Regions from separate parts of the Homo sapiens genome. Here region 1 is linked to region 2. The links come from fine-mapping of genetic effects on gene expression. A gene starts in region 2. The other region holds a variant in brackets. All regions are shown on one strand. Distances are between the middles of the regions.

Region 1 (2,913 bases), 160 kb after region 2:
ACTGAATATCTTGTACTGGGAGTGAGAAGATACTATCGAAACTTGAGTCATCAAAAAATAGAAGTATAAATGTATATCAGTCACAGTGGAGAGCAAAAAGGAAACCATCAGAACTAAAAACAGAAACTGGGAAATGGTATAAGTGACAGGGAGTAGGACAGGGAATGTAACTTTTAGTATCGTTTGAATTTTAAAAATATATGTATTATTTTGTAACAATAATAATAAAAGTAGATCAATCTGTTTTTTTAACCACATCATTACTGTACAATTACTCGGTTGCCCGGTGACTTTTCAGAGGAGCATATGCAAATCATATGCAGAGCAAACAGACTCCACATCCCTTCAGGACTATTTATGCCTCATGCTTTCTTTGACTGTAAAAAAGTTGAGGCATAGGGTGCTATTTTGTATTCTAATTGTGTGGACAAATTGTCAGTGGACTACATTTCCCCCGGGGTATGGAGCTCTCTTTGTCCCCCTTGGATATTGGCGAATGTATCTCAGATATAATCGACTACTAACACTTCAAGATCTTTATTACATATTGATTCCTTAAATACATAGATTTTATTTGAGCCTTACAATAATTCTGTGACAATTCAGAGCAGGTGTTACTATCTTCATTTTCTAGAAAAAGTTAAGCAAGGTTAAGGTGTCTCAAGTCATTGAGAAAGGGAAAGAGCCAGCACCGGTCTTCCTCTCCCTGCCCCATATGGTTTCTTAAGGTGATGGAGATTAAGTAATATTAATGCATACAGGCAGCTTTTAAAAAATGTGAAAAACACATTACCAAAGAGGAAAAAGCAGCCACTACAAACAGGAAATCCTTGTAAATGCCTCAGCTATAACCTTCCTCACCCTGAACTCTTGTTAAAATTGAACAATATGGTAGTTAAAAATGTGTCTCACAGAAAGGACTTTTGAAGGGAGCTGCAAAAGTAAAGAGAAACAAAAAGAGGAAGAAAAGTAAAAAGCTTTCCTTAAAAATGTGGAATTCCATTTAATTGCTGTGCTTGCCTGGGTCCTACGAAGCATCTTATGTTCTGAGTCCTATATTTCAAGTGCTTGCCTATGTCCTGTAAAGCGTATTCTGACTCAGAATAAAACAATGTAAAAAACAGCCTATGATTAATCTTTCCACTTGATTCTGACATTTATTCACCCTTTCTTCCTATGTGCAGAAGTGGAAGTGGGCATATGTGTGACAATGGGGGGAAAGCGGGATGAATGGCAGGGGTTAGAATAAGAAATGTAACTTATTTTTAATGTCATTTGAATTTGCTTAATATGTGCATATATGGAAGGGTTGATTAAACTATAGATAGGAAAGCATTGACCAAAGGGCTCTTTTCTAGAATGCCGTCTGACTCCTTTAAAGTTAAAATATTATTAGAGGACCATAAATTTAATCAGGAGTTTCTGGGTATATTCTGCTTTTCTTCTTCTATTAGAAATTCAAAGCTCTGCCTTCACAACACAAAACCCTTGACTTAAACATAAAAATTTTTAGATACCTCAGAGGCAGGACATTCCCTTTTTCTTGGCCCACCTGGCATCAGTGTGAATGTTTGGTGAACCTTGTCCAAATTCTGGCTCTTCCCATATTGATTCAGTTTCTATCTGCTAGAACAAGGTGACCTGCCAAGCTGTAGTGAACAAAATACGATGACTCACATGAAGTTTTTTCTTTTATTTAAA[C/G]AAGTTAAGTGCAAAGACCATTGATAAGAGCAATTTTTAGCAACCTTGTTATCAGCTTATAGTGAGGCAGTCCCTCTTCCTTCCTCCCCTTTCCACCCACCCCATAGTCGTAAAACCCTCACCAGAAACAATTTATAAAGCTTTTAAAGACAACTTTCAGGTTTGAGTGTTAGTATTTAAATGTGGAATTACTTTGAATTTGAGGCGCTTAGCCAAATTGTTACTAAAATATACTCTTTTTCTTGGCAATTACCACTGTAGACAATGTAGAGTGTTTATTTCATGTGTACCTAGCCATAAATGAATTCAAAAGTAATTTAACTTAAAGCTTTAACTAATTCTTTTAATCCCAATAACATAAAGCACTGTGTTTGGATCAGGAATCATCTTATATAACTGGCATTTAATAGGCATGACAAAATATATAATAAAGAAGTATATAACTTTTGTTGCATCTACATTAAATACAAATGAAAAATAATGAGGCTTATTTCTTCCATAGATCTCAGTGTCTTTGGAAAAAATGGACAATCAATAACTGCTGTAATATAACAGCACGATTCTATTATTTTCAGAGCTCTATAGTGAGATTAATAGTACTATTTTTAAAAATCAGAATGTGACTTTATTAAATCCCAGAAGAATGTACATTTAAGAAAAAGGGATAGAAATATCACCAAATATCTTTTCTGTATTGAATATAGCAGTCTGAATGTCACAGTCTTTAAACCTTTTTCTTCTTCCCTGAATTGCTATATCTGGTAATTTTGAAATATGAGTTAGAAACAATCAAGCTCATACCTAATGGATATCAATATTCCAGTTAATGTTTGTCCCAATGTTTTTCTCAAAGACTTAAGAAAAATGAAAATTCTATTTGACTTACGCTTATAGCAGAGATGGCTAACAACATAAAATTAATGCTATGTCTTTCTTAGTAGCTTTGTCTTGTGGCTGCCCAGCCAAAACCAACTTTTCTATACTTACTAGCAGTTAGGAGAGGCCATGTGACTAATTTCCACTAATAGAATGTGAGAGGTAGTGGCACCTGTTACTTCTGGACCCAGGTAATTAAACAGCTGGTGTGGTTTTTGCATCCTTTCTCTTGCCTCTTCCATCAGTTGGATGTTGATTTCCATGGCAACCTCTAAAGCCATGTTTTGGAGAACACATCACAGCTATCAACTTGGGTCTCTATATGACTGCATGAGA
Region 2 (2,913 bases):
ACTAGCGTGACAACTGTTGTGATACTGGGGATGATCTGAATATTCTTCCTCTCAGATTAAAGTGGATATTTTCTAACACAACAACATTTATTGGTAAAATATGACATTTTCCATAAAAAATTTAAAAGATGCTTAAGAAAGTTCTCTACAGTTTAGGACACATTTTGAGTATGAATAGAGTTACTCAAAATATCCTATCAATATACAGTGGGCTTCCATATTTCTTTCCCCTTTAATTATATGCCACTTCCATTTGTGTTTCATCAGTGAAAAAGTAATTTGGAGGCCTTCTCATTCATTATCCCGCAGCTGGAGTTTTCATTCGTTTGTACTGGGGGGGACCCTCGCCTTAACTGCACACACCTCCCTTTCCTCTGGGTCCCATCCTTGCCATCTGCCAGGGGCAAAGTTGAAGCAGCCCCTCCACACTACTGCTTAACCAGGTCTGACATCCTCATCCAATTCTACTGTCAGCGGCATTCTGCTCAGAGATCACTTTTGTTTTACCCCAAGCACAGGCAGTGACTGAATAAAAGGCAATGAAAGAAAGAAGAGTCCTGCCCAGAACCGCAGGTACGAGTCACAACAGGGCCCCGAGAGCAGCCTGTGGTAAGAAGTGTGGCTTCCAGGTACCCGCCTCCACACTCAGCCCAGCCTTATGTATGCAAGGAAAATCACACCCCAGGAAAGACCGACATTCTTTCTCCTGTTGAAACTCCAAGCCCAAACTGTTATTCTAAAGGAAGCGCATTGCCTTTCAAGGCCTTCCAGTTCTTCCTACTGCTTGGGAACTGATGCGCGTTCCTCCTCCTGACGCCGGCCTGGGATAAGAGGAGAGTAGGGGGCAGGTGGCGGAGAATATGCCCATGTTTCAGAAAGCCGGTCCACCCGGTGTGCCCCGTCTCACCAGATGTGCAGACAGCTGAGGGTGGCAAAGAGAATTCCCGCAATGAAGGCCAGGGGAATGGCCAGGAACACCGTCAGGAACTTGTACATTACGTATTTGCTGATTTCAAAGAGGGCATGGCTGCAGATCCACACTTTGTCAAAGGAGTGCGTAGTCACCGGCTCTGCGATCACATCCTCGAAGCCCAGCTGAGGAGACAGGACGCAGGGACCCCGAACTGTCAGCCAACCTGACGCCCCGGGAACCGGGAGCGCTTTGGGCGGGGGAAGCAGGAGGGAAGGACGTGCCAGGGCGTCCGCCTCTTCTCTTAGGGTCACGGTGGGCGCACAGGAACCTGGCTAAGAATTCCTGGCTACGCGGGCGGCCTGGTGACGGGTGGGACCGGGGAAGGGTGCGGGTCTCAGACCCTGCGGGGCCGACCCGGTAGCAATGGTGGGACGGGTTAGGGCGGGGCTGAGGGGCGCCCGCACCTCCCGGCCTCAGCGGGGACTTGGGCCCGCCCGCCCCGGGCTTCACCTTGAGATGCGAGTTGAGCCGGTGGGGATCCCGGTCCTGGTCCGAGTCCGCGAACTTCTCGGGGTCGGCGTACTCGAGGCCGCTGTGGTGGCTGTAGGAGTCGTCGTCCATGAAGAGCTGTACGTCCGCCTTCTCCGTCTCCAGCCCCATCGCAGCCTTGGTGCGCGGCCGCTGCAGCCCGGCTGGCGCGGTGCGGCTCCCGGTCCGCGCGGCCTCCCCTTCCCGTAGCGCCCGGCCCCGCCCCCCCTCGCCTCGCCTAGCCCTGCGAGGCCCGGGCGGCGGCCGCTTCCCGCTGTGGGCTCCAGCTCCCAGCCCGGCCGTCCCGAGCCCCGCCCCGGCGCCCCGCCGCCCCTCCCCGCCCACCTCCCCCGCCGGGGCGCAGGGAACCGTCCCCACGAGTCACAGCCCGGGCCCTGCAGTGGGCGGCGACGCCGGCAGCTGGGACGAGGAGGGCCTCCTGGTCACCCTTCTGGGGGCCCGTACTGTCATGCCTCAGAGCTGGCAAGTCGTCCCAGGGAAGACAACGGCCTTCCTGGAGGGAGGGAACCTTGTGGTTAGGCGCATGGGGTGCGAAGCAGGTATGTGCTCACCTCCGGCTGTGTTTGCCTTGCGTGCTGCGGCTCATGGTGCTGGTATTGAGCCTCTGGGAACCTCAGCTGCCTCGTTGGCAAAATGGGGGCTGTGGCATCTGTTTCAGGGGTGTCCGTGAGAATTAAATGTTAATTTCACATAAAATTCTAACACACATGGCCCATGGCCCGTAACACACAGTGATAAACTTCCAATCAACGTTGTTGCTGCTGTCGTGAGAGGTAAGGAGCCACAATGTACCTGAGTGCTAGGTACCTGAGTGCTAGGTGACCTGCAAGTGCATGTGGAGTTGGGTAGGCGAACGCCCTGGCCCTAGAGTTTGTGCCTTCAGATCTGAGGTGTGAGGGGAGATCTGATTTTTTTTTTTTTTTTTTTTTTACTTCCTAAACTACACCGTGTGTGTGTGTGTGTGTGTGTTTGTGTGTGTGTGGCAGAGTTTCGCTCTTGTTGCCCAGGCTGGAGTGCAATGGCACGATCTCGGCTCATCGCAACCTCTGCCTCCCGGGTTCAAGCGATTCTCCTGCCTCAGCCTCCCGAGTAGCTGGGATTACAGGCATGCACCACCACGCCTGGCTAATTTTGTATTTTTAGCAGAGACGGGGTTTCCCCATGTTGGTCAGGCTGGTTTCGAACTCCCAACCTCAGGTGATCCGCCCGCCTCGGCCTCCCAAAGTGCTGGGATTGCAGGCGTGAGCCACCGCGCCCGACCTCCACCTTTTAATTTTCTTGTGAACCAGACTGTCTTGAAAGATTCAGGAACTTCTAAGATGCAGTCACATCTGTGATTATCTTGCAGGCAGCACGGAAACAGAACCCTAACACAAAGCCACATTGCAATGGATGAATTAGCCTGCTGACCACTCACGCAAAGGTTTTCAGAAGGGAGGAGTTTGCATGTT

The links. PIP is the estimated chance that this variant, and not a neighbour inherited with it, causes the effect.
Region 1: its variant is fine-mapped to the expression of CAV2 in whole blood (INTERVAL, PIP 0.94).

Annotation. Positions count from the first base shown.
Region 1 is chr7:116,338,559-116,341,471 of GRCh38, reverse strand. It overlaps LOC124900233 (a long non-coding RNA gene), which reads right to left. Exons shown (of 3, transcript XR_007060487.1): 2 at 1,553-1,649. Among named protein-coding and RNA genes, the nearest start is that of TES, 130 kb to the right of the region's middle. The variant C/G (reference allele first, on the strand shown) is at 1,702.
Region 2 is chr7:116,498,442-116,501,354 of GRCh38, reverse strand. CAV2 (caveolin 2) reads right to left here and starts at 1,617. Exons shown (of 3, transcript NM_001233.5): 1 at 1,424-1,617; 2 at 908-1,095. The coding sequence starts at 1,573. CAV2-DT (CAV2 divergent transcript) reads left to right here and starts at 1,839. Exons shown (of 3, transcript NR_188012.1): 1 at 1,839-2,001. RefSeq lists a silencer at 1,645-1,734 and enhancers at 1,915-2,054, 2,101-2,602.